Regions from separate parts of the Homo sapiens genome. Here all the other regions are linked to region 1. The links come from fine-mapping of genetic effects on gene expression. A gene starts in region 1. Each other region holds a variant in brackets. All regions are shown on one strand. Distances are between the middles of the regions.

Region 1 (10,862 bases):
CCGAAGTCAGTGTGCCTGTTGGCAGAGGTAGGGGCCAGGACAATGCCGATATTGACAGCAGTGAGAAGCCAGCACCCCCACATGGGGAGGTAGGCATGGGCAGCAAGGTCCCTTTAGAGGTAAAGGTGGAACACCTCTGTTGCTGGGCTCCCCAGGCTTTGGGTGTCCTCTGGGCCTGGTCTCATGGAGTAGTTCAGGCTGGAGACTCAAGACTGCAGAAGACGCTATGGCGAGGGGAGATCCACCTTTGTGTGGAGTTTGGCTACCAGTGATCTGTGCATTGAACTGAGAAACCACCTCCTGGACCCACGTTTCTTTTCACGTGAGCATTTTTGTGATGTGGTGGTAGACTGAGCCAGATTATGACCACAAATGATTGCTCAAGAGGCGATCTGTTAAATATTTAATGTGCAATCACAGTTGCTTGCTGTGGAGCTCCTTCTCCGTCTGAGATGAGTAGGGTCTATTGGCGGGCAAGTTCCAATTTAGTAATGAGATCATTATAATCCTGACCTCCTCGGAAGGATCCTTCACACCAGAGCAAGCCACTTCTCTGAATTCTCTCCACCTCTTCCCAGCATGAATTTAGTTCTCACAACTCTCAAAGGAACTCCCATTTCCTGTTTCTCCCCTACTCCTGACCTCACTCTCACTCCCCTTAGCAAAGTTGTTCTGTCCTTCCAGACTCCTTCACGATGGCTTCGCTTCATCTCACAAATGAGACGCTGAACACTGCTACTTCCACACACTGTGCTTTGTCCCTTCAGGGACAGAGCTGGGGCCTGGTTTCAGCTCATAAAGAGCTCACAGTCTTGTGCTGTTTCTTGGACCAACAGAGTCAGAAATAGCAGAGGTTCTTGTGAGCACATAGAATGTTCTGGAGCCCATCTCAGATCTTTAAATGAGACACTTTGGGGTCAGAGTCTGGCCTCCTCCTTTTACTACACAAGACCCCTGGCTTGGTTAGGGGTTCACCCTTACACCAAACTCCTAGAGTGGTTGATGGTTTCACCCTCTGTGGTGGTTGATCTTAGGTGTCACCTTGACTGCGCCTCTGGGTGCCCAGGTTAAACATTGCTTCTGGGTGGGTCTGTGAGAAGCCTTCCCAAAGAGATTAGCATTTGAGTTGCTGGACTCAGCACAGTAGATTGACCTGCCCCACAGGGATGGGCATTACCCAATTTGTTGAGGGCCTGAATAGAACAAAAGATAGAGAAAGAAGGAATTCGCCTTTTTTCTTGACTCCCTGCTTGAGGTGGGACATCTCATCTCATCTTCTCCTGCTATCACAATAGGATTTACACCTCAGCTCCCCTGTGTCTCAGAGCTTTGAACTCCAATTATACCATGGGCTTTCCTGGGTCTCCAGCTTGCTAATGGCAGACTGTGGGACTTCTCAACCTCCATCACCACCTGAGTCAATTTCTTTTTTCTTTTTTCTTTTTGTTTTTTTTTTTGGAGACAGAGTCTTGCTCTGTCACCCAGAGTGGAGTGCAGTGGTGTGATCTCTGCTCACTGCAACCTCCGCTTCCTGGGTTCAAGTGATTCTGCTGCCTCAGCCTCCCGAATAGCTGGGCCTACAGGCATATGCCACCATGCCTGACTAATTTTTCGTATTTTAGTAGAGATGGGGTTTCACCGTGTTGCTCAAGCTGGTCTCAAACTCCTGAGCTCAGGCAATCTGCCCACTTTGGCCTCCCAAAGTGCTAGGATTACAGGCATGAGCCACCGTGCCCGGCCACAAGTCAGTTTCTTATAGTAAATCTCCCCACACCCATATGTGTGTGTGTGTGTGTGTGTGTGTGTGTGTGTATATATATATATATACACACACACACATATATGATATATATATACACACATATATAATATATATACATATATAATATATATATACACATATAATATACACATATATAATATATATACACATATATAATATATATATACACACACATATATATAAGATATATATAATATCTCCTATTGGTTCCGTTTCCCTGGAGAACCCTGACTAAACCACCTTCCTAGAGAATCTAGAAAGTAGACTTTGCAGGAACATTTTCTCCCTTTTGCTAGTTGTTTTGTCTTGTGTGAACCTGAAAGAGCCCATTCTCCGAAACAGCTCTTAAGCATCTAACTGGGCCTAGTTTCCAAATAGAGCCAAGCAGCCATTTGCTGACTAGAGGTCACACACATACTCTGTGTTCCAGGAAAGCACACACCCTTGCCATGTAACTTAGGGACATTCAAGGCTGTTTTTTCCTGTTCATGCCACCTGAATCAGTAGCTGTGGGAAAACCTTATTTTCCTCCTGGACCTGAGCAATAGACTGTGACAGCATCGGCCAATCAGAACTGAGCAGTTTACATCCCACAATTGCATAAGTGGCCCAGAGTGGGAGGCTGGGTAAGAGCTTTCTCTATCAAAGACAACCACTCTCTTGGTTCTCTCCGGGCCCACCTTTGTTTTGTACTGAAGGCTGCATCTCCCCAGTTTGCAAACTGCTTGTGCAAATAGAGTCTCTGTTAACCTAATGCTTCTTTCTCAGGTGTTTGGTTAACACTTGTACATGGTAGGCATTCTGTCTATATTTGTTGGGCAGATGTGTGCGTCGAAGTGGTTAAACTTTCCCAGCCAGAGTGGGCATCTCCTCTGGGGTAAGGAGTTGGTGACATGCAGGTACCTGAGGCCCTGCCATGGGTGCATGGGCTGTGATTGTCCATAGACCACGTTAACTTAAACTTCTGGTCTAACACATAGAGTGGGCATCTTCCTAGGAAACCCTGGAAAAGCAGCAGATAGGACTGGCTCTCAGCAGTGACGAAAAGCAATAAGAGGACAAAATGTGGTACTTTACACAATGGAGTACTATTCAGCCATAAAAAAGAATAAGAACCTGTCATTTGCAACAACAGGGATGGAATTGGAGGTCATCATCTTAAGTGAAATAAACCAGGCACAGAAAGACAAACATCACATGTTCTCACTTATTTGTGGGATCCAAAAATCCAAACAATTGAACTCATGGAGATAGAGGGTAGAAGGATGGATACTAGAGGCTGGGAAGTGTTGCGGGGGTGAGGAGGACGGACATGGGGATGAATAAGACCTAGTGTTTGATAGTACAATAGGGTGAGTAGAGTCAACGATAATTTAATTGTACATTTAAAAATAGCTAAGAATATAATTGGATTGTTTGTAACACAAAGGACAAATGCTTGAGGAGATGGATACTCCATTTTCCATAGTGTGATTATGGTGCATTGCATGCCTGTATCAAAACATCTCATGTTCCCCATAAATATATACACCTACTGTGTACCCATAAAAATGTAAAAAAATGATTAAAAGTCTAGATATAATTTAAAAGAGGAAACTGTCTTTGTGTGGAGGCCAGCTGAAGACAGATACTGCATCAGGCACTTGGCAGCCTGGTTTCCAGTAGCTTCTCAACCCAGTGGAGTAGACTCTATGGCCCCATTTTGCAGATGAAGAATGGAGGTGCAGAGAAATCACAGCTCTAGCTTTGTCAGGAGGACCATAGAGGTCCAGGGGCTGGAGGTCTGAATATTTAATAGAGGGATTTGAATAACCATGGAAGTTAGCCTGGAGAGAGATTTAGGAGGCAGATAAGCCTAGTGTTCACTGTGGGGGCAGATGCCTTCCCCATCTGTGCAGACGATTGGCCCAAGTGGCCATGATGACATGGCTCCTACCTACTTCCTAATGGACCTCAGAGAATTAAACAGCGAGGACAACAGCGAGTGTTGTCTCTCAGACCCTTGGCTTTTTCAGGACTGCCTGACCTTTCTTTGTCCTTATTTGGCTTCAAGTCAAGTCAGCTCAACCCTGATTGAGCACCGGCAATGAGTCATGTCTGTGAAGGCGACACAGCCCCTGTCCTTGAGGAGCTTCGAGTCCAGTGACTGTCACTTCAGTGGAAGTTGGGCTGGACACAGTCACATGTGTATGCCAGACATGAGGCTTTGTTCTCATTACAATAATTGCCCTGCATTATTCTAGCAATTAAGCTTCTCCACGTGTGTGGATGCATGTTCCCAATTTTTTCTGGCCTCTACCGAACACAATGTTAATATTTGAGAGCAGTCCTAAAAAATTAAATAATTATACAAACTGAATTAGGATAGCATAATATTACCAATCAGAGTAATGTGGCTTTGTAATCCAGTGTGATGTCATATGAATCTACAAATTAGGAAGCATGTCAGAGGAGGAAACCACATCCTTTATTGCTTTGCCTTAAATAGCTTAAAACTAATCTTTTCCATGAGCCAACAGCTATCTCTCATGTTTAATAATGCTCCTCCCTGCCCAGATGAAGCTAACTAAATGATGTTGCCCCCTGCACCTGCAAATGCCTGGTGCCAGGGCAGGGACACAGGGAATGGCAGAAGGGGAGACCAGATGTTGGCTGAGGCATTGATTTATGGGCATGACCTTCCATGTGCCCCGAGGATGGCTGAGACCAGGGTTTGATGAATGCAGTGCTCTGTGTGAGAAGTTCTAAGGTGACAAGCAAAGATTCTATCCTCTGGAGGGGCAAGCCCTATTATTAGGTTGGTGCAAAAGTAATCGCAGTTTATGCAGTTGTAATGGCAAAAACAGAAATTACTTTTGCACCAACCTAATACCAGACAGAGGAGGTGCAAGTGCATGCCACCAGGGCAGGTGCAGGTGATGGGGGCAGAGAAAACTCAGATGTCTCCAATCTGTGCAGAGTAGGGAAACAGAAAAAGCTAAGTGAGGAAAGTGAGATTGCTATCACACAGATGCATGTCTTAGGTTTTCTGATTCCATTCCTCATGAATTTCATTAAGTAATCAAAGTGCTAAGCATGAAATGTGGGTATGCTGTCACCAGGTGGCAGCAGCATCCACTCTCCAAAATGCATTTTGTTCAAACCTAGTATGTGCTGGGTATTCTGAGCACATAGCAGAGACTAAGGCAAAGAGTCCCTGGCACTGTGGAGCTTAGAGGCTAATGAGGTGGCAGGTGCTTACACTTTAGAAACCGTTGTGAGGAATAGCTAGTGGTAGTTAAATGATACAGTGATAGTTAACAGAGAGGAAAGCTTTTCTCTCACTCCAAGCTATATTTTTATTATCACTATTAATATAAATAGAAAATAAATATTAAAATAGTTATTAAATAAGCAAAAGATAATGTTGCATTTAGTTATACGATTAAGTAGAGGTTTTCAAATATTTTTTAGCTTTGTGCAACCGAAATTATATGAGGAAGCAAAAACCACAAATACAGAAAATAAGAACTTTTCTGTTTGAACAGAAACGAGGACACTGGGGAGGCCCTTCCAATGCAGGCCAGACTTTTAGGGGCTCGACAGAACACAGCTGGAGAAACATCCACACCACACGCGGTTTCACCTGCCACACGGCAGCCCGGGTGCCCGGATCACTGTGTGTGGAGACTCAGGCTCACCGGCAAACCTCTTCCGGTTCCGGTCAGGGTGCTGCCTCCCTATCCACTGGGAGTCCTTTTGCGTTTCAGATGCTCCCAGGCTCTCCCGCAGTTTAAAGACTTAACTCAGCGGCTTTCAGGGCCTGTGGTTGAGGGACTCCGAAAGAACTGTTGCTGGTGGACCGGTTCAGGGTCTTGACTTCGCCACACAAAAGAACTTGAGAGCACGTCCAAAGTAAAGGTAAGCAAGGGAGTTGATCGCACAGCGAAAGCGCACTCTGCCAGCGGATCGGAGCGGCCGCTCAAAGGCGAGGCAGTGCTGGCCGACACTGGGGAAACCCCCTTTATGGGGGTCTTACATGATTATTCATGAAGGGCTGGGAAGGGGTGTTGCCGTGAAGCATGTTCTGGGCTGTCTCCTGGTGGCACATGTGCTGTGGTTGTGCATGCTAGTACACACATCGCATGTCTCGTTAGCATCGTAAATCTCCACCCAGTTCTTTAGTATTCTAATGAGCGCAGGTCAGCCCAAGGACACTCATCTTGGGTTTCTGCACTTGGATGAATTCGCGGATTTTTCCTTCGCTCTTTGACCTCCTCGCTAAAGGATGGTCTAACCACGAGCCTGGGATGCGGCTTGTGCACCGCAGGTGGCTTGTTCTCGCCATCTATTTAGCAAGTTTGCTCTCCTTTAAGTGAGGCTGTGACCACCCTCTCTGACCTACCTCAGAACCTGTTGCTTAGCTTCAGAAATCCAGCCTGGTGCTGGGCTGAGGTCAGCCTGAGGTCAAGCCATGCCCCTGAGACTTAACTGCCCTTGGATACCAATTTTCAGCAACAGAAAAGAATGAAAATAAAGTTCACATGAGGGCTAGTGCTGCTGGCAATGAGAAGGTCCTGTGACTACTTTTATTACCACTTCAACGATAAGGAGGTGACCTTTCATTCTCATTTCTCTCTCTCTAATATTTTGCATTCTCCAACTGTTATCTGTAAGAACATCTTAGCGCATTTGAAAAGCAGGGAAAATATGTAATAAAAACCACAACCAACCACACCATCTTAATGATAGCACTATTATTTTGTAATTCCTTCCAGTATCTTTGCCCAAGGTTTATTACTTGTTGAGTATTTGCAATTGTCCTCAGTAAAATTCTGAGACATGATTTTTAATTTAACATACCTTAAGATTTTTGTTTGCAGGTGGCTGAATTTCTTCAGAAAAATTATTTTAAGGGCTACTCAACACTGAGCAGTTAGTATTCATTCAGGTGGCCATTCTCTGATGCCTGTATTGCTTCCAGCTGTTGGGAAATGAACCCAGTGGAGAATATTGTTTTTCTTTTGCTAACAACAACATCCGTTAGGACAGATTTCCACATGTCTGATTGCTGGGCCGATGACACAAACATCGACAATAGCGCTTCACGCGTGTTGACTGATGATTTCCAAAAGCTTATCTTCCCAGTAGGCAGTTTGCCAGATGCTTCCAGAAATAGATGAGAATGCCAATTTCATCACACTGTTGCCAGCACTAGGTATGTCCACTACATTTTAATGCTAGTGTAATAGGCAAAGGGGACCTGCTGTCTGTTTCACCATTCATTTCTTTGCATGGTTGTCAGGTGGGACATTGCATTCTCCTGGAGAGGCCAGATCACTATGTCTCCCAGGAGGCCCTAGCAGAAGCTGCTCTGGTGTCCAGCTCCTGTGTGAAGCCTCCCTGGTCCCTGACTCTTGGAACAGACTTCTTTTCTGCCCTTTAAACACCCCTAACATCATGCGTGGTCCTTTGCTATGACACAGTTGTTCCCCATTCTGCATCGTCATGAGGCTGTCTACACCCTCTCTCTCTCCTGGGCAGGGCTCCGGCTCTGCAGGGGATGGGGACGTGTGTTACTCTGTTAGTCCCCTGCCTTGTCCAGCACAGCACTGTACATGCCACAGAGGCCCCACAGAGCTTGATCAAAAACTAACAATGATTAAACCAAAATTACGAATGGACAAAAAATTTCCATCAAGAAACCTCAACATTTTAATGTTCATGAGGGGGGAATGTAGGGTAAATGCACCTGATAGTAATAAGCATACCCTTAGAATGACCCTGTATGGCAGATGCGCCTAAATGTGTGTTCTGTGCTAGGGAATCCAGGAGTGGCCAACCCGGAGATTGATTCTGTGTCTATGATAAACATCTGAGCCCCTGGCCTGTTCTGTGGAACGTGGGCCGTTCACGGGATTGAGGCCCTGAGTTTGGGATTGGATGAAGGTTGCCAGGGCGAGGTTACCAGGAGGGTGTTAAGTGAAAATGGTATGTACATGACATGCTGTTCAGAAGAGGTTACAGTTTTCCTGCCCGGCCCGCCACCACTGGAGCATTTCTGTACATAAGGTGATTTCCCTGTTCAGCCCACCATCATTGAACACTCTCCCTGCACGTAAGCCCCTAATAAAACCCCATGGCTTGGTTGCTAGCTCTGGGTCTCTTCGGCCTTCCTATTGAGCTTAATAGGGGTTCAGCACAACCATGGAACAAAGAACAACAAAAAAATTGGTGATCTTAGCTCTAGTTTTCTTTCCTCCCTGAATCACTTATGAAGGGAGTCATGTGGCCTTTCAGCCTTATCTCATTTGAAAACAGAGGCTGTAGGATCAAATCTCAGTCCCCTTAGTCCTATATTTAGGAGTCAAACTCTGACTTCTTCATGGGGCTGTCATCAGATGGCAAAGCACACAGGGCAAGGTGGAGCAGGAAGCTGCTGGACGCTCTGCCTTCCTTATCGAAATAGTGAGGTTACATGGGGAGAGCTGTGGTCCTGATTCACTTGAGTGTTTTTTAGGGACCTACTATGTGCCAAGCATTGAGCTGCCTCTGATAGTGAAGGTAGAATGTGATCAATAATAGCTGTGTTTAACAACACTGTTGTCTGAGCTACTTATGATGTTAGAGCTTGATGTCAGGAAAGCCAGGTGATCAGAGTTGCCATTCAGTATTTGGCCTCACTAGTAATTTCTTCATTGTATAAAGCAGTGCTTCTCGTGCACTAGCAAGCATCAGCACACCTGGAAGACTCATTAAAACACAAATTTCTGGACCCACTCACTGAGTTCCTGCTTCAGTAGATCTGGGGTGAGAGCTGACAATTTGCATTTCTAACACATTTGCAGGTGATGTTGCTGGTCTGGGGAAACCACAATATGAGCGCCACTGCTGTCAATTGAAATAATAACAGTTCCCATATATAGGCGATTTACCTGTGCCAGGTGTTATGTGGACAGCTTTACTTGCTTTATGTCAATTCCAGAGAGACTTACAAAGGAACTATTGATAGCTTTAATTTCTGAGATGAGGTATCTGAGAGTAAAAGCTGTGAAAACCCTGTTGAAGCTGGCACAGTGAGTGGGATTGGGGCTGAGCCCCCGTCTCTCTGGCTCCAGTCACATTGCTATCCATGCTTGGTGCACCCACTGACTTACCAAGCCACTCTACCTCCTTGGGGACCCTTCTCCCCATTTACCAATAAGTCACCTTCAGATAACACTGGGCACCCCCCAGGCAGTGCAGATGCCACCTAACAGAACATTCCCAGTTCCTCCTTCAAATTCTTGGGATGTTGTTGCCTTCACCCCACTTCTCCATGTGCCATAATCACTCAATAAATTGTTCCTGTCATTTTAAATGTTTGCCTTTTAAATATCAATAATCTTGTTTCAAGATTTTCTCTTAGTCTTTGGGTTTTCTGCAGTTTGAACATAATATACCTAAGGGTATGTGATTGTGGCTTTTGTTTATTTGTTGCTTGTTTTGTATTTATCAGTTCTCTGGGTCTATCATTCATTTTGAAACGTTATTAGCCATTATTACTTTGAACACTCATGTGCTGTTCTCTCTTTTTCTGGTATTCTGATAATACATACATAAAGCCTTTTGATGTTGTTCCACAGTTCTTAAGGATTCTATTGTTTTTTGTTAAATATGTTTTTCTCTTTGCATTTCAGTTTGGGAAGTTTCTGTTGCCATATGCTCAAGCTCACTGATTCTTTCCTTGGCTCTGTCTGGGCTACTGAAGAGCCCATCAAAGGCATTCATCATTTCTTTTGCAGTGATTTGATTTTTTGTATTTCCTTTTGATTCTTTCCTAGTATTTTCATCACTCTGCTTATATTACTTATCTGTTGTTGCATGTTATCTAGTTTTTCACTGGAACCCTTAACATACTAACCACAGTATTTTAAATTATCTGGCTAATAATTCAGAGCAATAGGAACTGAGGTCAACAGGCCTTAGTGTGAGGATTTATGTTCATCTGGCTCAGAGTTGGGCTGTGTTCAATATTTGCTGTAGGTGCCAGAAGCCTCGCCTCTTGACCTTGAGTCCTGCTCTTCAGAGCCTCTGTCTGGAGCTGTTTCAACTGTAATTCACTGCTGTTATACTGAAGCCCTGTTGTTGAGGTGGTAAATTGTAGGGGAAGGGGAGTGTCCTATAATCATCAAATTAAATCTCAGTCTTTCAGTGGGGCTCTGTGTCTGGCCTGTGACTTCACAAGTGTTTCCCCCAGCCTTAGGTGAGACTGGAAGGCTGGAGGGAGCTGCAGTAGAAAATGCCCTTCCCCAGGCTGGAATGAGGCTGAGAAGTCTTTCCCTTGGAGAGTGGACCTTCCAGGGGAAGGAGAAGGTCTGGTGTCTTTCATAAGGAATACTCTTCCTTTCCCTGCCAAAGCTGGGAGCAGCTCTTTCCAGGATCTTCACCATCAGAACCTGAAGGGCTCCTGGAGATAAAATCCATAAAAGTGTGAGGTCTCCCCAAGGCTGCAGTGACCAGTCTTACATTGCCTTCTTCAGTCTCACACATTCAGTTCATAGGAATGTGTCAACTTGATCATCTAAGTGTTCCTACCAGTTTATGTCTACAGCGGCTTCTGCTCCAGAGAGGCAGAGTTCAGCTGTGATTCTCTGGACTCATCCAGAGATGGAGAGATTCCAGATTTCTGGGTAGTGACTTACCCTGTTATCAAAAGGCAAACTTAAAACAAACTTAAAGGTCTTAATGGGCTTTTATTTTCAATTTGTCAACACCTCATTCTATAGAGTCCGTGTTCTAATGAGCTGAGCATAGGAAGTTGGCTTCATGGGCAGAAAGGGGCTGAAGAAAGCAGAAACAGAAAGCAGATTGGGCACTTTGAAGATATTTTCCTTGTAGGACTAAAACAAAGAGAACTTTCTTATTATGCTGACTGGTCATTTTGAAGATATTTTCCTTATGGGACTAAAACAAAGGAAACTTTCTTATGCTGACTCAGGTTAACCAGAATCTCTCGTTTTTTAGGAAAACTGGTTCATTTCAAAGTTCAGTTTCATTAGGTAGCCCTCAGTACATTGACTCTGTTCTGGTCTGCCCAGGGCCTAGTGCAGGAGGCCAG
Region 2 (10,862 bases), 86 kb before region 1:
CAGGTCTAACCCAGCAATCCTTGTTACCATTGCCCGAGTGTAATACAGGAGGTTGGAAGTGGCTTTATAAGAAAAAAAATTATGATAATAATAATGATGATGGTGACGGTTATGACGGTGGTGATGAAGATAATAGCAGCGAATATTTCAATACATTTTAACAGCTCCTTATTTGCCATACACTAAGCTAAATCATCTACTTGGATTATTTCTTCAAACTGTCAACAAACTAATTTCCATCTAGCCTGAAATTTTTCATGCTCAGTACCATTGACATTTGTGGCTGGATAATTCTTCATTGTGGGGGGCCATCATGTGCATTGTAAGATGTTCAGCAGCATCTCCGGCCTCTACCCACTGGACTCCAGCAGCAACCTCTCCTTTCCTAGTTTTGATAACCACAAGTGTCTCCAGACTTTGCCAAATATCCGCTGGGGGACAGAATCATCCCCTGTTGAGAATCTCTGCAGAATCCCGCATTCTTTTCCATCTACCTACAAGATCTCACCCACATGGGGATGCAGTCTCTCCCCCAGTGCTTCCAGTACTTGCCCCTGGGCAGCCAGGTCCACTGTGAGGCCACTCAATTCATTACATCACTCATGTTGACCATGAAGACCCTAAGTCATCAAGGAAGGTTCCACTGGGTGCAGCAAATGCCACTCAGGTAGTCAGGAAAAGTATGTGCTACAGTTAAGAAATATCTCTACCCTAGAAGGGCCCTCACTATTTTGTGTTTATTTTTATTTTAGATACAAGGTCTTGCTCTGTCATCCAGGCTGGAATGCAGTGGTGCAATTATAGCTCACTGTAGCCAGTTTTATTCTTAAAGACCTAAGACGCGGTGGCTCACGCCTGTAATCCCAGCACTTTGGGAGGCCGAGGCAGGTAGATCATCTGAGGTCAGGAGTTCGAGACCAGCCTGACCAGTACGGTGAAACCCCGTCTCTAGTAAAAATACAAAACTTAGCTGGCTATGGTGGTGAGTGCCTGTAGTCCCAGCTACTTGGGAGGCTGAGACAGGAGAATCGCCTGAACCAGGGAGGCAGAGGTTGCAGTGAGACGAGATCATGCCACTGCACTCCAGGCTGGGCGACACAGCGGGACTCCATCTAAAAAAACTACAACAATGACAACAACAACAACAAAAAGAAAACAAACAAAAAACCCAAAAAACCTAAGGCCTTAGCTATCTAGAAAGTTTGAGCCCCAAAGTAGATACATTTTTGGAGTGTTCCTCATAATCAAGATCTTCCTGCATTTGCCTCTTCAGAATATTTTACAAATGTTTGTTTTTGATTTTCCTGATTGCCTGTCTTTCCTTGAGGGCTGGGTTGTATCTTATTCATTTGTGTGTTCCTGATCCCTATTACAGCAGCTGGTATATGGTAGGGACTCCGAAAGTATTTTTACATGATGGGTGAGTAAGTGCGCCAATGATTGCTTAGTAACAAAGTAACAAAGGTCTTTGACGATTCCAGGAGCTGCACTGGAGCCAGGGCTGCTGCCTGACTGATCAGCCAAGGTAGGAGCTGAAGTTTCATGGGCCAGCAGCCCAGGTGGGCTCATGAACACATCAGTCCTGGGTAGTGTGGTGGAGGTGGGGCTGCATGAATCCATCCCCAACTGTCATATCCCAGTGTCTGATATGTCTGCACAGCTGGAGGCGGCTAAGTTTGACATTGCTTCAATTTTCTCACTAGTAAAATGGGGATACAAATGCGTATCTGGCAGGGTTATGATGAGGATTAAATTGGAAAAAAACAACTATTTCAATTGTGCTTGACAGAGAGCAGGTGTCCAGGAAATTTCATTTTCCTTCTCTTCCCTTTCTGCCTTTTCTATCTGCCTAACACCCCTCATGCTGGGAACTTCTCTTCTGTCCATGTTGCTATTGAGACTGTTAATCACATGTTCCAAACTGACCAATCAGAATACTCCTTTGTTCCTGGTTTCAGTGATTGGTCCAGCAGTGGGCACATGACCTGGGAAAGCCAATGAGAGTCTTTCGGGGAGGGGGACTCGATATAAATGCAGGGTTTTCTCTGGTCTGTAAGGTGGTGAAAATCCGAAGTTGAGCGCAGGCGGCCGGTTTGCTCACATCAGGCCTGCTAACTGGGGCTAATGATAATAATGATGACAGCTTGGATTGACAGCACACCTGCCATGTTCCTGTTGCCTTACAACCACTATCTCCAGCCTCCCTACCGTCTAGCATGTGCCTTGCTCCATACCTGCCTTCCTGAGGTGCAGAGGACAGCAGCGTGGAGAGATGGAGGGACAATGGGTGCCGATACTATTGTTTCGACACCTGCATCCGGTTTTGCCTGAAGTCTTTTCATTTGCTGGATATCTTAGTTCCATGAGTCAATATTCTTCTACTTCTTTTTAATCCAGTTTATTTTAGGTTGTTGTGACTTCCCATCAAGAGGTCCTGACTAATATATGATTCATCTCTTTTCCTTCTTTCTTGTTTTTCTTCCTTCCTTTCTCTGCCCTCCCACTCCCTTCCTTCACCCTCTTGCTCCTCTCTCCCCTAGGGTCCTTGTCTCTCCTAGTTCCTAGCCTGGATCCCAATTTTGTCCTTGTCTTTCTGTCCATTCATCATATCCGTGGAGTCCTCAGATAATTGTCATACTGACTCCTAGACATTTACAGATTATAATGCAGATCTTTCAAGGCTCATAGGCACACAGCTCTATTAGGAGAAAGATGCGGTGATGTTGACATTTTGGATGAGGGGGTCAAATATTGTTCAGCTCCAGTCAGAGCCACACTTCATATTGCAGGCTTCTGCCTGGTTCATTTTCATTTTTATGCAAGCAAACCATCACAAGAGCCCGCCTGTGTTTACCCCCTGCCCAGGTGTATTATGAACATTGTCTCTAGTTCCTACCTGTGGCTCACATAGCTAAGGACAGCAGGGCTTACCTGGCTGGGGCTGAGCGTCTCAGGTGAAAAGTGCCACCTGGAGGTGGGGTTGAGAATGAACTCCGCCTGATGGCCATGTCTGGGTCTGGCACCCCAGGAGTCCACTAAGCAGTCATAGGCAAAGGATGCCATTTGTCTCTTGGGTTCACTAGTGCAGTGGGTGACTTCTGCCAGCAGGGAGTTGGTGGATATTGCAGGGTTGGACTGTGTTTTTCAGAGGAGCGGCGATGAATTAGCCCATTTATTTTCCCATGGTCTGAAACCCAAGGAACATCTGTCTGAGCCACAAGCGGCACGTTTTGTGGCTGGTGGGAGGACCCATGTTGCAGGGTTTGATTATGCCCATCAGCCGGGGTTGCTTGGAAGCGTCAGGGAGAGCTGGTGATTAATCACCAGGCACAGTGGCATGGATCCCCTGTGTAATTATCCCTATTGCCCTCAGAGCCGATTATGCTTCCAAAGGGTAGCGGCTTTCGGAAGGAGGTGAGTGCAGGCTGGCCCCTTTGCTCACACCAGTCCTGCTAACTGGGGCTAATGATGATAATGATGACAGCTTGGATTGACAGCACACCTGCCATGTTCCTGTTGCGTTACATCCACTATCTCCAGCCTCCCTACCGTCTAGCATGTGCCACCTTCAAGGTCTTGGCCGTGTTCTTCTAACGCTGATACTGTTATTTACTTCAGTTTTTTCTTTAAATCAACTCAATTTTTTATTTAAATGTATTTTTAAAGTGGGGTACAAAAAATTAGAAAGAATGAATAAGACCTACTATTTGATAGCACAACAGGGTGACTATAGTTAATAATAACTTAATTGTACATTTAAAAATAACTAATCAAGTATAATTGGATTGTTTGCAACACAAAGGATAAATGCTTAGGGGATGAATATCCCCATTCTCCATGATGTAATTACTATGCATTGCACACCTGGATCAAAACATTTCATGAACCCTATAAATATATATACCTACTATGTACCCCCAAAAATTAAAAATTAAATAAATTAAAAAATAAAAAAGTAAGATTTCCAACTCTCTTCCAAGTAGAAAACTAGTAAGGCTTTCTAAGAATGGAAAGAAACCATACAAAATATGACATAAAACATACAACTAAATGCTGGTTGGTAGTATTGCCTGTGAGGACCCAGCTGAGCCCTGCACCCTCTTTATTATGATGGGGTCTTTAATAGAGGTGAGTGCTGACCTGAGACTTTTTATGTAACCAGAGAAATAGAAGGGCAGTTAGAAAAAATAAAGCACTTCTCATCATGTCTCTACTGGTATACCTCAAAAAATCACCAAGGTCTGTGTCTCAGGCATCAGGGGTGTTCATGTATTTGACTTCCCATACTTCTCACTCCTCAAGTTGGGCTCTGTTACGTCCATTTCAGAGTTGAAGAAACAGAGCCAAAAAGAGGTTGCAGAGAGAGGATGTTCAAGAAGGGGGATTCCAGCCCAGGCTCTGGAGATAGACCATCATTGTTCTGTACTAGATGCCATGTGCCAAGTTCTGAGCTTGGCACTTCACCTTCATTACCTTGTTCTATCCACATTCCTGCCCTGTGGAACTGTTATGGTTTTCATTTTATGGGGGACACAGAGGCTCAGTGGGGTGCAGAGATGGTCCCAAGCTCTCCTGGCAGTAAAACAAAAGCAGAGTTCTTGACCAGGGCACGGGGTGCTGCAGAGGACACACATTCCCACTCTCAGATGCTGCTTGTTCTCTCCACAACCAGCTGTGGGGCAGCTGCTTTGCCAGGGGCCCTGAGTGTCGGCAACAGCCAGAATAACAGGGAAGCAGAGAGGGAGTTTGCTGGAAGGGCTTGGGGGAATGCACAAATGTAGGGCAGAAGCTGGAGAAATGGACCTAGAAAGAACCAGAGCCTAGGCACTCTGGTGTCCGGGAGGCCTCAGGGCTGTGGCCAGAAGACATAGGCACCTTTTCTACTCTTTTGGGGGTCTTCTCCTCAAAGGTGGGGACCTTGAGCAAGAGGGTCCAGTGGATCTGCTCAGGTTACGTGCCTCCCCTCTGGGCAGGGTGAGATCCTTGTTTGGAGAGTCCCACCCAGCAGGATTCACACAATAGGAAGTTG[G/A]GGCGGGGGGATCAGGGTGCTATCATAAAGGGTAAGAAGGCTAAGACTAACCTCCGAACATGCAGAAGTTACCCACTATATGCCAGTTGGCCCTGTGCCAGGGGGCCTTCTATCATACTATCCTGTAGAGGTAACAAGAAGTCCCAGCCTCAAAAAGGGGCTGGCAGGCTGGGTCCTAGTTCTTCTTTGCCATGGCTCCAGCATGGACTTATACCCTGGATTGGTTGTCTCATTTCAAAGCAGGGAAAGATCTCTGAGAGCTTTGCCCAGCTCCCTGGATGCTCTGCTCCAGGTGATCTTGGCACCCTCTTCTGGGTCTGGCACCCACACACTGGCACACCTTCCATGACCCTGAGGCTCATGCAGCCTCCAGACTCACCTACCAGTTCTCTTCCTGGGATTCTCAGCTTTCTAGCATACCCTCTTCCAGAGGTGGGAGACCTCCAGTTAAAAACAAAATTGTACACAACCGCAGCCTCATTTCCATTGTTTAAGAAATTAATTATCTTGGTGTATCTTTTCCAATAACAGCTTTCATTAAATTAAACCCAAGGCATTTATATTCCCTGGGAATAACAGGCTGCTTATATATGGCGGGAATGTGCTGGAATTTCTTTAGAAATCAGCACATTGGCTATTGAGGACTAGCTGGTGATCACAGGTATAGGTTTTGAAGTTAGATTGTCAGGATTAAAATCCAGGCTCTGCCATTGCTGGCTGTGTGGTCTTGAGCAAGTTACATTACCTCTCTGTGTCTCGGCTTGCCCATCTGTGCAATTTGGACAGTAAGAGTTCCTATCTCCCAGGCTTGTGGTAAGGATTAAACACGTTCATGTAATGATCAACAAGGTTAACTATGAACATGCTCACAAAGACACACATGGGCTCTTCTGGCGCAATAGGGACGTGGCCTGGAAGCTCACTGCCACGTGGCATTTGGGACCACAAGGGATCAGACCTCATCGTCTGTGCACAGATAGACAAGATCATAAAGAGGAAAAATTAGCATCGGGAAACTGGTTATTTATTTAAGATTGAAAGCGGGAGAAATCTGCCCTGGACATCTTCCCCTCTCCTCTGTTTGTTTTGTCTGCCAAACAGAGGCAGTACCCCCTCTCCACTCTATTTATTAATTGAGTAAACTCCGTGATCCTAAATGCAAACAAACATGGGGCCAGCACAAACAAGCACGTGCTTCCTGTACGCGCCACTTCTGAGTAGCAGCCCGAGCAACAGGTGGACTGGCTGGGAGACAGAAACGGCTGCAGAAGGCGCCTCCAGGATTTGGCGTGAGAGCCCTGCAAGGTCAGCCCATGTGCTCCTTCTTTGTTAGATTGTTTGTTCATTCATTTGTTTATTCATTCCTTTATTCAAGTGTTTAGTGAGAACTTCCATGTGGAAGACAAAGACCTAGCTCACAAGGGGTGCATGGTCTAGGGAGCTAGGTGTGGACAAAGAGCCACGTAGGATGTCAGTGCTGAGATGTGGCAGCCACGGGGAGCTATGGAAGGGGGCAGAAAGAAGACCCCAGAGCTCAGGGAAGGCCTGCAGGGCAAGTAGGGAGTTGTCAGCCCAGCAAAGAGCCAAGAGTGTGAGGAGAAGGTCTGCCAGCGCCTGAAGGGGAGAAGCCATGGTTCACCAGCTTCAAGAGTTGATACAGTTGAAAGCATCATCTCTCCATGGCCAACATCCTGGGCTGTGGCTTTAATTTGGGCATAGTGTGTGCCTGCAAAACCTCGGCTGTATTCAACCTAGTCTGCCATTGATGGAGTGAGAACTGCCCCCAAATTATTTACATTCAAATTTGGAAGCAACTGAAACCCAACAGTAGGAGATTCATTACAGTAATTCCATGGAAATGGAATAATACGCTGTCGTTAAAAGTGTTCAAATCTTTTATGGTTATGATAAATCTAATAATAAAATCGAGACAATATTAGAATATATATTTTAACATTTTCCTAGTTTTGTGAAAAAAGCCCCAAATATCTGTATGAGCCTAGATAAATGACAAGAAAGGAAAACAGTAAGATTTTTATAATGGTTATTGCTCAATGGTTGGATTTTTAAAAATACTCTTCTATAATTTCTAAATTTTATGCCCTGAGGATGTATTACCTCCATAGTCAGAAAAATTATGAAAGGTATTTAAAACCCAAACTGGCTTTGGGCATGCAGAATGCTTGGTTATTTCTGAAGTATAAAAATAACTCCCCCTCTGTCCCATCAGCACGCGTGTTGCAGGGAGTCTGACGTTGCTCGCTAAGTCTCTTTGGTCGTTTCATACTAATGCCCTTTGCTCCCCTGATTATCTCTCTGAGGTTGGGGCCGGGGGATGGGGGTGTGCTAGGCCTCCTGGATGTCTGTCTGCTGCCAAAACATCCTCTCCTGTCTCTGTCTCATTGGTGCATTTTGATGAACCTGTATTGCCTGGTCACTGCGCGCTAACCACCAAATTATGAAACATTTGTGCTGCAAGGGAGCTGAGAGATCCTTAAACTCAATGAACCATTAGGCATAAGACACACACACACACATACACACGTGAATACACACAAACACACAAACAGCTTGGCTGCTCTGGGTGAAGCATGTGTGTGTTTGGGGGAAATTTCCTTCCCCACCCGTGGTCGTCCATTTGCCCATGAGCAGCTTCCGAGGCAGGTCCGTGGACCCCAACGCTGTGTAACACCGTGTGAAAAACACAAAGGCTTGCAGCCCTCTCACTGCAGACGTGGGAACACGACTCTGTTTAAAACCCTTCAAAGCCCGCCTTCTTGCCGTGTGATGCTGCCTGGGCCAGCAGGGCAGGTCACCACGCTGTCTCTTCAAAGCAGCTCGCTCATGCCCACAGCGCTGGGCACAAGGGCAGCCACGAGCTGTTTGATTTCTGCGTCCCCAGCAGATGGCTTGGTGCACAGGGGCAGGGCTCGTCTGTCCCTCTCACTGCTGCGTCCCAGGCTATGTCTCCACCATGTAACTTCAGACAAGTTCCTCAGCGTCTCTGTGTCCTGGTTCCCTCATTTGTAACATCAGGATATTGATAAGGATCATAGTAATAGGGATGTCCTTATGGGGCCTCATGAAAATGAAGAGTTCTCTGTGATGTGCCTGGAACCACAGAGGGCAGCAAGTGGGAGCCACAGAAAGTCATCTCTTTATCATAGTTGTCATTGGTAACTATGACGGTTATCAAGGGCAGGGGTCTCCCACCTTCTGCATCCAGGCCTTGTCATTCCTTATAAAATTTTCTCCTTTCAAGGACTTTCAATGCCCTGAAAACGGAATGCTCCTCCCTGCTCCCCATCAGCTGCTGCAGAGCCCTGAACCCCTTGAACTTGCCTTGCTTAGTTCTTTCAGGGGCTGCCTTGGATGCCACCTCACTTCCCTCTTCTTGGCTCTGTGGCTGTCAGAGGGGCTGGGCACTGGGTTACTTCATCAGTTCCTGGGTGTTGATCGGCAGGAAACAGTGGTTTCCTGTTCATATCCTGCCTGAGCCTGGGCCGGGTGGAGGTGTCCTGCATGGAGTCTTGTGAAATCGCGTGGACTGCAACACCCAGCAGCGCGGTGAGTCCACCCTGAAATCCACAGTGACCCACGCGGCATGTGCTGGGAATTGAACGCTTGGGGAAAGAGCTGGGCTCCAGCGGATCAGCCCCGACCAAGTCGTTCCCACAGCTCAGGACCGGACGCTACAAGCCCACTTTGTAGCAGTTTGGCGGACGGCAAACTTTTGCAACACAGTGCAAAAACCATTTAACACCTTTAAGGGAATTGGAAATGGGTTTTTCATGTGTGGTGGTGCTGAAAATTGAGAATAATGACAGAATTATTAAAAACAGCCTTCTCGGCCTTAGACTCTTAATTGCCTCTGGTCTGTAAAACTGACAAATAAGCACTGTAGAAGCCACAGATGAAATATGTCGTCTTGGGAGCCCTGGAGAATTGTCTCTGAATTCTTTTGTTTATGGATTGTAGAAACTGCTTTGGGGGTAGTTGGATGTAGAAGCAGAAGGACAGAGTGGGGAGCTGGGAGCAGGAGGCCTGGGTTTGTCTCCTGAGTCTGTTTCCACTGGGGCCTGAGGCTCCCGTGTGAGGGAACATGAATGGGCCAGGCACATGGGCCCTGTGGGGTGACAGAGCTGTGGGCTCCATGGTGGCTCTGTGGGCAGCTAGCTTGGGGATGGCTGAGATAAAGACAAGTAGTTTTCCTTCCTGCAGGACTTCTCAGAGCCTTTAGTGTGGTTATAATGATAGAAAACAGTATTAAGTCCATACCCTGAACCAGAAACAATGCTAAAAGCTTTGCACTTGGCCTTTTTTTTTCTTTTTCTTTTATCAACATGTGTGAGGACGGAAGCTTAGGCTTACAGATATGGACTCATTGAGAGTGAGTGGACGTGTCTGATCTTTAACCCAGTTCTGTCTGACCAAAAAGCCTGTGCTCTAACCACTGTGCACCCCTGCCTGTCTGTCCTGTTGAGAGAACTGTAGGGAAAGCCTTGAGATTATGTATCCAGTGCTCCCCTCCTCCTGATTGGAAGATGGCAGCTCAGAAGGTTAGGGTGCCTTCTCCTGTCCTCCGAGTGGTTAGATGCACGTGTCCTCTTCTGTCCTCTGCTCTTCCCACATCCCTCTCTCTCTGGTGCTCTGGTGGAGCCCCTGGGATCAGGGGTCACAGGAGCACCTGGGCCATTTGCATGGTTGTTGGTAAAGGGTGTTCCCCCACCCCCCATTAAGGTGCCTGCCATCAAAGTGCCTTATTGCTTGAGTTCCAATCTCGGCTTCACAACTCTGTAGCTGTGTGACTTTGCACAATGTACTGAGCCTCTCTGTGCCTGAACATCCTTGTTTGTAGATAGTAAAGATAATTGTCCCTTACTCCTAGGTTTCACATTGAGTGTTTAGCAAGTTAACGTTTGTAACGTGTGAAGTCATAAGATGCAGGACTGGATGACTGCCCTACCCACAAGAGGCCTAGGATCTTCCCAAGTTGCACTACTTATGGGACAGGTCTGCCAAGCAGCCCTTGTGAAGATAAAGGTGGTGATGAGTTCCTCCCACAAAACAAGAGCCTCAGAGAGACTGGAAAATAACCCCCGGTGCCTTTTATCAACTGGCCAGCAGATGGCAGAAGCAAGCCAGGAACAGAGCTTGTGTGCGGCGGCTGTGGCAGCTACCTTTGAAAATCCCGTGGTGTTTGGTGGTCGTATTAAGAGATCTCTGGTGTAGGAGCATCCTTCATTCTAAGCAGGATTCTGAACAAACTCAGAACTGGCTTTGTGGCTGGTACCGAGGACCCAGGGGTCACGGCTGCTCCCAGTGGGTGCTGATGCCCATTTGTTTGTGCAAGTTGGTCCCCTGTAGGGAGGACAGATGGTCTGTCTCGGACTTTCTGGCCTGTGCACCAAGGCCCAGGGATGGAAGTGGGGCAGCATGTCCCCATCATTAAATAGGGCGTTCTTGATAATAATCCCATAAGGCCTAATGTGATGGGTGTGGTCAATCATTCATTCATTCTGTGAGGATTCAGTGAGCAGCTACTCCATGCCTCTAGGCTCTGAGGACGCAGCATGAGAAACACACGGAAGGCCCACGATGACCAGGGAGCTCGCCTTCCAGGGAGAGAGGAGAAAAATAAATGGTAGGGAGTTAAACACGACAAAGTAGAAAAGGGCCAGCTGCAAGAATGAAATTAAATAGGAGGCTGGTGGCAGGGGGGCAGGGAAGCCTGAAGCACCTGACTGCCCAGAACAAGCCGCACCTGTGAGGAGCTGGGAAGGGCACTCCAGGCAGAGGGAGCACCAGAGCAAACCCTGGGAGGGGGATGAGC
Region 3 (10,862 bases), 180 kb after region 1:
GTGGAGAGAAAGAACCAGTGTTCTTGGAAAAGAGGGTGGCCTGAGCGAAGGGCCTGTGGCAGGAGGGAGTGTAGAATTCAAGGAACTGGGAGGAGGTCCTTGTGGCTAGGAATATGCAGAGTAAGGGGAAAAAGGCAAGAAATAAGGCTGGAGAGTGGGGAGGGCCACAGCACACGAGGCCTTCCCTGCCCACCTTGCCCACATGCCCCAGACGTACTGAGGAGCTGGATTTGGTCATTGTTCTTATGAGTGCTGTGTTCCCAGATTTCCCCTTCATAATCTGGCGACATCCACCAGAGCCAGCTCCTGTGTCCCTGATGTGATTACCCCTGACTCCTTCCCCTCCTGACACCTGCCCCAGGTACTCACACCTCTACCGATGATGCCTCAGCCTGGCCCTTTGGCTTTTTGACCTTGGACCCCTCCCCACTCCCTCTCCACCTCTCTGCTTCCCACTTCCCTTGTTTCCAGCTGCTCCTTTCCCTGTGAGCCATATTGGTTCCAGCCCCAGCCTCTGCAATAGCTTCCCCAAATGAAGTGAATCCGAGGACCACGTAGGATGTAAGCCCCGTCACCGTGGTGTTGGTTAGTGAATGTCTCTTTACTGTCTATTTCCCCATTCAGTGCCTGTCTCCCCAACCGACTGAAAGCTGCAAAAGGACAGAGTCCTTCCCAGGGCCCAGCACAAAGCTTAACACGCAGAACATGCACCATAAATGATATCCAACCATGACCTTCCCCTCCCCCAAACTGCCCCACAGAGCCCAGTCCCACAAAGCCTGAGACAAAGGAGCTGCTTTTCACACAGACAGACACAGACAGACTGATGGACAAGCTGGAGGACCCGGGGACGGTGAGAAACAGGCTCCAAAAGCATTCTGGCTGCCAGTATTTAACACACAGAGCTATTTTCAGATGCTAGTCACAGACATTTTGAACTGCATTAGAATAAACAGAATTCTGAATTATCTTCTCAGCAGTACATGAAAGAACTGTCTATCACCCAAAAGGGAAAGAGAGAATGATGAATTTCTAAGGTAAAAATTCTGGAAGAGGGAGGAAAAAAATCCAATCCACAGGCGGTTCTGGAATCTTCTCACACAACAGGTGGTCCCCCGCCCTCCAGTCCCCTAACTCCTGTGATTAGGAGAAAGTGGAAAGCTGTCAGCTAGACTGGGCTCAGGCTGGGTATCTGGGCTCTTGGAAATGTATATTTATTTGCTCATGCTAATGGTCAGCAGGCCAGGATAAATGGGGCTGGGGCATTAATGCAGAGCCCTGTAAATCATGCATGAAGGGGAAGACCATGCCCAGCACCGAGGGGCCAGCCAGCCGAGGAGGCTGCATGAAATATTCAGCAGCCAGACAGACTCAGGCCTGCTCCAAATCCCCACGTCCAGACCTCTGAGGATGTGATTTTTGCAGAAAGCTTTAAAAGAACCTCAAATGCCTTATCCTTGTGTTCCCCAAGTCTCCTATCAAAGCTGGTTCTTGCTGAATGGTGTCTCTGTGTTCCGCCTCTGGGGCGTTGGTCATGAGGACCCCACACTGATGGTTCCCCTCCCCTGTGCCACTGCAGCACTGCTCACCCATCCGGCCCCGCAGCAGGCTGTGGTTTCCCTCCCTGTCAACCACAGGGCCCTTGTACATACTTTCCTGTTTCAGGAAGGTCTCTGCCTGGCTCATCTTGCTCTCCTTCTCTTCTTTAGGTCTCAACTTGGATGCTACCTCTCCAGAGAGGCCTTTGTTGCACCACCCACCCCACCCCTAAGTTGGCCTTCTGTGCAGTTCTCTAGCTCTGTCCTCTGTCCTCTTTCATGCCCTATCACAGCTGTGCTCATTTTGGGGGCATGCTGTCACTGGCTCTTTGCTGTCCTCCTTTACCAGAATTAATCTCCATGCTAGAAGAGGCTCTGTGGGCCCATCCTTGCTGCACTGCAAAGCAGCATCTGGCATATGGCAGGACTCAGCATAAAGTCAAGGAGTGAAAAACAGGTGCCTCTCAGCAGGCATGAGGTGAGCCTGGAGGTTCATCCCTGGACTCTACATCTCCTCTGCAGAAAATGTTCTGATCCTTGGATATGATCTTCAGGTTCCCTATCCGTGAAGTCTGTACAACCAATAAGCCAGGCAATGATTTGATGAATAGGAATAGTAAGGTTTTTTTCCTGATCCATTCTAACTGCAGTAGCCAAGTTAACATATGGCAGTGTGCTTTCTCAGGACAAACAAACAATGATAGATTCATACCCAAGCTGAGAGGGGCGAACTGTAATGCCATCCAGCTTCCCTCCCAGTACAACAGGGCCCTCTGGCTTTGTGTGGGTGCTTGTGGATAGACACCTCACTTCCTTCCAAGGTAGCTGGTTCCACTTCCAGCCAACAGCTCAGGCTGCCTCCCAGCCCAGCTATCCTGCAGGTTCCAGCCCCACAGCACGTGTGTCTCTGTGTCCTCTAGCCAGTAGGCTTCTCCCCCAGAATGCTGGATTTCTTATGGAGATTTTCCTGGATAAGATGAGCAATTGGGCTGACCATTGGACCATGTGTATTGATGCAGTTATTGTATGCACCCAGAGATGGAGAGGCCTGGTGCTTCCATTCTGATGTGCTCTTGGAGAAAGCCATTGAGGAACTGTGGTCAGCAGGTGTTCCAGGAGTTTCAGCGCCATGGGCTTAGTGGGGCTTCATGGCCCTGTGTATGCATTTCCGTGTCCTGCAGCCAGGGTGTCAGCTCACTGCATTCATTCAATAGCTCCTGAGTTCCCACTGCATGCCAGGTACTGTGTGTGTGGTGGTGGGGGGTGACTTTTTATCAAGCAAAGTCAAACCACACATGCCCCCTGCCTTTTAAGAGTTCAAGATCTGTAGCACAGACAGCCATGGGGACTAGGAGCTCCAGCACCGTGAGCTGTAGTGGATGTACACAGAGTGCCCCGTGGGCAGGCACAGGTGGCAGCTAATTCCAGCCGGGCTGGCTTGGGGATTCCTTATGTGACACCCACTGTAGACCCAGCCTGCAGCTGTTTCCTTCAGTGGTCACCTCCGCCTGATGAAGGAAGGCAATGCGTTCTCGTGTGAACGGCTGCTCTTTGCTTCTGGTCCAGGCCTGCTCGGACTCCATCTCGCTCATGGCGTGGCTTTGAAATGATGCTCATCAGGCTCCCTGACCTGCTCAGGGATAGGCCACTGTGAGAGTTCCGCTTTGATTTTCAAGCAGCTGAGACACCAGAGGCGTGGTGAATCCCCCCAGCCCTCCCCTCAGAATAAGCTATCTGTCCGGTGAGAATAGTCACTCCTCCTGTTCTTTGAGGACAAGACCAGCAAAAGACTTGAGTCACCATTTCCAAAGAAAAACAAGGAGAATGCAAATTTCTCGGCTTAAAAATATATACAAAGGGATTGATTCTATATAACTCTCTGGAGTAAGAAGAGCTGTGACTTCCATTGGCTGGTGCTGTTTAGAGAAGGATCGCTGTGCTGAAGTTGAAAAAGAGTGTATTCAGCTTTGATATTTGGAGAAAGTGTCCCAACCATCATGTATTTCTGCCTGGTTTTCTTTTAGAATGCACCAGCTGGAGTCGACATTAAAGGGCCCCATTTCCCATTTGCTGCAGAAGATGTTTAATTGGAAGTCTCTCCCTGTCCTTTTGTAAGCCTCATTTCTGCATATTAGCTTTACACATGAGTTCTGGGGTGACTGGTCAAGACGGGAGTCTGTGTGTAATTAGACCAGACCAAGGAAGAAGCAGGAAGTTTGCTGGCGGAGAACATGGGAGTCTCTGTATCGCCTTTAATCACTCTTCCTGCTTGGTGTAATGTTCACATGTTGTCTTTCATCACAGCCATGGGGACAGAGCGCCAGTTCATGCT[A/G]TCTCCTCACGGGGCCCTTCGGTCCATCTCCACCCACCACCCAGCCCTCACTGTCATCTGTCTGACCCCATTGGCCTTGCTCTTCTTTTTGGAACATGATAACCTCCCGCCAGCCGCCCCAGCACAGTCTCAGGACGTTTGCATGTGTCGTGGCCCCTGCACACTGTTTCCTCAGCTCCTGGCCTGCTTGTTCCCTTCCCATTACCCTTGTCTCTGCTTAAGCATCAGCTCCTCAGAGGTCCTCCTGACCAGCCCATTGCAAGTACCCTTTCCCCTTCCTCCTTGCGGTTCTGTTGCTCCCTCCACCTTGCAGCTCTGCAGCTTCCCGTGAATGTGATTGTTTACATGCTGACTATCATGTCCCCCACCTGGCTGTTCACCCCTTGACACCAGCACCAGCTTTCTTTCTGGCTGCGTTGCTGCCTGTGCCTGCAGTGGTGGCTCCGTAAGCATCTGCTGAACAAACGCATGGATGAATGAGCCCTTTCAGATCCAGGCTGTGTGGGGCTCAAAATTAAAGAAAACAACATACAAAATGACACATATAAAATTAGGAATGGGGTTTATTTAAATTCTTAAAAGCTGCTAAATTTCTGTACGTCACAAAACTATACAGTATTGAATATTTTAATAGTTACCTGATTGTATTGTACGTTTTCCTACATTTTTCTCTTGCATACATTTTGCCTTTTCATATGACAAAAATGTTTGGTATTGCTTTTAACAGGACAGAAAGATAATTCCTCTAGTGTGGTCAGATAAAGCTTTTTTTTAAAGTTATGGATAGTTGGTGGCATGCAACGTGCAGATGGTCACACAGACAGACTCATGTGGCATTGGGTAAGGTTTTGTCCTATAGACACAAGAATTTTGATGTATTCTTTTTCTTTCTTTTTTTGAGACAGTCTTGCTCTGTCACCCAGCCTGGAGTGCAGTGGAGCAATATCAGCTCACTGCAACCTCTACCTCCAGGGTTCAAGTGATTCTTGTGCCTCAGCCACCCAAGTAGCTGAGTAGCTGGGATTACAGGTGTACACACAACACCCAGCTAATTTTTGCATTTTTAGTAGTGGCAGGATTTCACCACGTTGGCCAGGCTGGTCTCAAAATCCTGGCCTCAAGTGATCCACCCACCTCGGCCTCCCAAAGTGCTGGGATTACAGGCATGAGCCACTGCACCCGTCCTTAGATTCTTTTTCATCCCATAAAAAAAAAAGATTCATTTACATTTGTGTATATGCATTACAAATTATTCCTTACAAGGGAGAACATTTATTTTGACTAGGTAATAATGAGAACTGAATCCTCTCCTGATAATAGCGTGTCTGATGATAAGAAGATTTTTCTTAGACTGGCTTCTGGCTCCATACATTTCAAACCTTGCTCCTTTTCCTCTTCCACCAGACCCTCTGGTGCTGGGCACCAATGAGAAGCTCATCTGGCCCCGGGATCCTGGCAGGACACTGGGAGCACTATTTCCATGGGCAGCAGGGTTGTTCCTGGAGACATCACTGACCCAGGACACCTAGCACAATGGCACTCGATGTGAAAGTGGCTTCGTACAAATCTGCCACTCAAGCCTAAATAAGTGCATTCCAGAAGAGCCGCAGCCCCTCTAACAGCTCCTGAGGTGAGGGAAACCCTAGGGATGGGAAGTTGGAGCAGAAAGAGATGGTGGCCTGAAGTCAACTGCAGTGAAAATCTCTCCCCATCAGCAAGTTTTGCAAAGCTATGGCCACAGGGACACATGACTGGGGCCCCTCCTAGTCTTGGAAGGAGCCCCCATGGAAATGAGGGCCTCACAGTGAATCCACCTCTGATCCTACTTCACCTGCAGTCAAATGAGAAGAGATTTCAATCAGCTAAAGACACCCTATCCCCTCTCCCCGACCCCTGCGACCCCAGGAGCTCCTGCCTTGTCACTGTGTCCCCAAACGAACCGCATCTGAATCAAGCCCCTTTCTCTCCCTAGTGGTCAACATCTGGGCTGTGATGGGCAGCTCCCACTCTTGCCTTAGAATATGACTGGAGAGGTGACTTCTCATCACATGGAGAATATGTTCACCCCATGGTGCTTTCCACCCAAGCTGACCATGGCTTGACTTTTTGGTGTAGTTGCTAGCTCTGTGCCATCCTTGGCAATGTGACCCTGGAGCAGCTGTCCCCAGTGTGCATTTGGGGGATTTCATGTAATTATGAATAGGATGCAAATTTTATAGCCCCAGTGAAGGGAAACACCCCTGGCGAGGCTTCCCGGGGCCAGAGAGAGGACTCCACTGAGGGAGATGGTGGCAGGGCCATTCTTTGTGTCCTGCTTTTTTTTTTTTTTTTTTTTTTAACATCCTCTTTATGTCCTGAGAGCCATGTGCAGATGAGGAAAAATGACATGCAATGCATTTTTGCCTGCCACAATGACTTTGCAATCATAACAAGCAAAATGTTCTAAACAGTAAGTGAATCGAGGAAGATATACTGCCAAGTCAGGAAGAAAAAATCCACCTGTTCAGTGATTTCAGGAACTGCTGAAGAAAATCACCAGTGAGTATCAGTTTCTGCAAGAGAATCTAATGCAGGCTTTGCTTCTCATCGGAATCCCCCAGCTGGTGTCTTGGTTGACTGAGAGTCTGGGGGAGAGGGCAGAGAATGGATTTATTCTCTGCTAGGTTTTTAACAGTCAAGAAGGGCTGTGGTCCTAAGGGGCACTGGTCAAACCTTAGTGTGCATCAGAATTATCTGGATAAGGCTAGGCACAGTGGCTCACGCCTGTAATCACAGCACTTTGGGAGGCTGAGGCGCGTGGATCACCTGAGGTCAGAAGTTCAAGACCAGCCTGGCTCTTTTAGTAGAGAAACCCTATGTCTATTAAAAAGTACAAAATTTAGCCAGGTGTGGTGGTGAGTGCCTGTAATCCCAGCTACTTGGGAGGCTGAGGCAGGACAGTCACTTGAATCTAGGAGGCAGAGGTTGCAGTGAACTGAGATCGTGCCATTGTGCTCCAGCCTGGGCAACAAGAGTGAAACTCTATCTCAAAAAAAAAAAAAAAAAATACCTGGAGAGCCTGTGAACATGCATAGTGCTGGACCCCATGCCAAAGATACTGATTCAGCCTGTCTGGGGTGGGCCAGAGATTCTGCATTCTGTCTAAGGAGCTCCCAGGTGAGGCACATTTGCAGACCACAGTCTGGAGGTTTGAGGACTTGGAAGACCATGGCTGACATATCTTGAGTCTCTGCCTTGGTATCCTTTGCCAAGCAGAGAAATGCACTGTTTATGTTTTTCAGGAGCTCAGGAAGCAGAATGCAACCCATGCAGATGTAGGGGCTGGATTCTCTCTATGACTGAGTGGGAGTCTCAGCCCCAAGAAATGCCCCGGGTTGGCCCTGAAATCCACAATGGCTTGCTGGGCTGGAGGCCACCAGCTGATGGGACCCAAGAGAGGAATGAATTATTTATCTGGACTCCTCACAGAGAACAATGCCCTGCAAATGTCCCCCGCACCATGCTGGGTGGAATTCATAGTCAACCTAACAACCAGCTTAGCATCTTCTCTCCCGGACCTTGCCCCTCCAACCGTATCGAACTTTGAGGAGCAATTAGGGAATTGCTTGACATCTTCCCTGCGAGCTCTTGGGTCACAAAAGCTAATTAACCTTCCTCTTGCCTTCCAAACTAAGTAACAACCTCCAGAGCCAAGTCTTCTGGAACAAAACAGGAAGGAAGAAAGAAACTAAGAAAGAAGCACTGTCTCTGATTTTTTTTTTTTAATGAAGGTTAACATATAATTTTTAAAATGAACTCCATGGAAAGGAGGTTGTGGGGTTCACAACCCCTGGGAGCAGTTCCAGCAGTGCCAGGACGGTCTCAGTGGCAGCCCTCTGCTCATCTTTGAGGTCTACTTTGCCCAGCAGCTAACTCTTGTAGGTGGAAACATGGTGGCTTCTTGTTCTCTGGGAAGTTCTGGATGGGAACTTGATGTGGGAAGTTGTGAGGTGCCCTGAACTTGGAGGTGGGGCTCATTGGCACCACAGTGATGGTCCCATCTGTGCCATGTAGACTTGACCAAGCAACTCAAGGTGTCCTTAATGTCCCAGACTGAGAGAGAATTTGCCGGCCTCCACCTTGGAATATTGTTGACTTTCAGTGCACGACGCAAGTCCTCTCCTTCAACACTCCTCTCTAAGAAGATACACAGTCAAACACTTAAGGACTTGGGCTTGCGGAGGGTGTAGATCTGGGCTCAGATTCCCATTCTGACACTTACTGGCTACGTGACCTACACTGTGATTCCCAAATGCCTGCATATCCACATACCACTGTGTCCCACTGCACTAGCTACCCGGAGCTGCCATAACACATTGCCACTAACTAGGTGGCTTAAAACCAGAGGAATTCATTCTCTTATAGTTCTGGGGGTCAGAAAACTTTTTTTTATTTGTTTGAGATGGAGATTCGCTCTTGTTGTCCAGGCTGGAGTGCAACGGCATGATCTCGGCTCACCGCAACCTCTGCCTCCTGGGTTCAAGCAATTCTCTTGCCTCAGCCTCCCGAGTAGCTGGGATTACAGGCATGTGCCACCACGCCCAGCTAATTTTGTATTTTTAGCAGAGACAGGTTTCTCCATTTTGGTCAGGCTGGTCTCAAACTCCCGACCTCAGGTGATCTGCCCCCCCTTGGCCTCCCTAAGTGCTGGGATTACAGGCGTAAGCCACCACACCTGGCCCTGGGGGTCATATATCTTAAATCAAGGTATCAACAGGACCAAGCTCCCCAAAAGCTCCAGGAAAGGATACTTCTTGGCCTCTCTTCTGGCTTCTGGTGGCTGCAGCAATCCTTGGGGTTCCTTGGCTTATGGATGCATCACTCCGTACTCTGCTTCCGTCCTCACTTGACCTTCTCACCTACCTTCCTTTACGTCATCTTCCTTCTGAGATGCTCTGTGTCCAAATTTTATTCTTTGTAAAAGGATGCCAGTCATTGGATCAGAGACCACCTTAATCCAGGATGACTTCATCTTAACTAAATTACATCTGCAAAGATTCTATTTCTAAATAAACCCACATTCTGAGGTTCTGGGTGGGCATGCTATTTGGCAGGACAAAGTCAACACAGGACACTCATTTTCAGGATTGATCGCATGGTTTGAGGAAGCTGATGGTGACATCTCTTCTTAAATCTGTTTTCAGGAAAATCATACTGGTAGCCTTCAAGTGGCCATGGTGGGAGCATTGACCCAGGGAAATCCACATTTCCCAACACATGCTGGATACCTGAGGACTCCAGAGCTACTATCTGCTCATATCTGCTCAACATTAAAAAAAAAAAAAAAACCTCACATTGTTAAGTGAAAAGGTTTATTGGCAGATTTGCTTAACTCAATTTGCAAAGATACCTTAGACCAGGGGTCGGCAAACTACATTCCACAGAACGAAGCTGCCCATTACTTGTCTTTTGTTTGTTTGTTTGTTTTGTTTTGTTTTGTTTTGAGATGAAGTCTCGCTCTTGTTGCCCGGGCTGGAGTGCAATGGTGTGATCTCAGCTCACTGCAACCTCAACCTCCCTGGTTCAAGCAATTCCCCTGCCTGAGCCTCCCAAGTAGCTGGGATTACAGGCACATGCCACCATGCCCAACTGATGTTTTTGTATTTTTAGTAGAGATGGGGTTTCACCATGTTGGCCAGACTGGTCTCGAACTCCTGACCTCAGGTGATCCACTGCCTCAGCCTCCCAAAGTGCTGGGATTACAGGCGTGATCCTAAGTACAGTTTTATAGGACAACCATGCTCATTCATTTCCGTATCGTCCACGGCTGCTCTACAGCAGCAGAGTTTAGTGGTCAGGACAGAACCGGCACAACCTGCACAACCTGCACAACTTTCAAAGGCTGAATATTTACTCTCCGGCTCTTTAGAGAAAGTTTGCAACTCCTACTTTAGACTGATGCTTCTCCAATGCTAACGCGCCAGTCACCAAATCACCGGCATCTGGTCCCAGCCTCCAACCATAAACCACAGCTGAATGGAAACTTGGTAGCGCTTGCCTTCAATAGCAGATGCTGTAAGAGGAAAGCAAGGTGACCAAGAAAACATTGCAAAACTCTGGGCAGAATCTGGGGCCTGAAGACTCTGAGTCAGAGGCCTCTTTTTTTGCTCTAAACACATATTAGCAAGAGTCCAAGAGGCATCAAAGATGAGTTAGCAGCAAAATGAGGCTTTGTCCTTCATGTAGAAAGGATTAAATGATAGTTGAAAATGCAATAACTTTCACCCTGTGGGATTCAGTGATGTTCAGTGCTGTGATTATGTCCAACTTCAAATCTTGCTGTCCCAACTGGGACAGCCCAAACATAGGGAGCCACTGCACTAAGATGTTATGATTTATTAAGATAATAAAGCTAGCGGGATGACAAATGTTTCATTTTTCCCCCATGTGTTTCCCCCAAAGGACCGTCTGCTTTTGCATGTGATTTGACTATGCGCTGAGGACCTAGCGTGGTATATCAGCAAAGTGGAAAAGTGACTGAAGTGACTGTTTATCATCTTGTACCAAGTTACACCACTTTAAGCTTTAACTCCACAGCTCTTGCATTATTTTAAAACCGTCTGGCAGATCTCTAAAACTAATGGTACAAACCACTCTGTGATACATTAAAATACATCCCACTCTGTCATACTGCAAACAAGTAGCTGCTCCCCAGTCTTTGAAAAAGTACTTTCAAGATAAAATATGTACTCATGGGTTCTGCAGGTTTTTAAAAAGTCTTGAATCTTCACAGATTTACTGGGGGGGAAGGGGCGTTTCATGTAAAATGTGTTTTTCCTTGACATTTAGAGGTCTTGCAAAGTGGTTTATTATAGATCTTGTGGACATCTCGCTATTTAATTAAATTTCAGAAATATATTCTCTGCACTCATAAGAAGGAATATGAAGAGTGTATTTGTTCACTGTCTATTTATTATTCGTTTTCTGTTTCTAACACAAAATTATCAGTTCGA

Evidence for each region. PIP is the estimated chance that this variant, and not a neighbour inherited with it, causes the effect.
Region 2: its variant is fine-mapped to the expression of MIR646HG in whole blood (INTERVAL, PIP above 0.99).
Region 3: its variant is fine-mapped to the expression of MIR646HG in whole blood (INTERVAL, PIP 0.98).

The regions. Positions count from the first base shown.
Region 1 is chr20:60,132,962-60,143,823 of GRCh38, forward strand. MIR646HG (MIR646 host gene) reads left to right here and starts at 5,531. Exons shown (of 5, transcript NR_046099.1): 1 at 5,531-5,683.
Region 2 is chr20:60,047,413-60,058,274 of GRCh38, forward strand. LINC02910 (long intergenic non-protein coding RNA 2910) reads left to right here and starts at 8,513. Exons shown (of 4, transcript NR_161293.1): 1 at 8,513-8,596. RefSeq lists enhancers at 10,201-10,250, 10,261-10,440, 10,536-10,862. The variant G/A (reference allele first, on the strand shown) is at 5,030.
Region 3 is chr20:60,315,359-60,326,220 of GRCh38, forward strand. It overlaps MIR646HG (MIR646 host gene), which reads left to right. Exons shown (of 5, transcript NR_046099.1): 4 at 3,563-3,649; 5 at 5,275-6,898. Among named protein-coding and RNA genes, the nearest start is that of MIR646, 12 kb to the left of the region's middle. The variant A/G (reference allele first, on the strand shown) is at 3,871.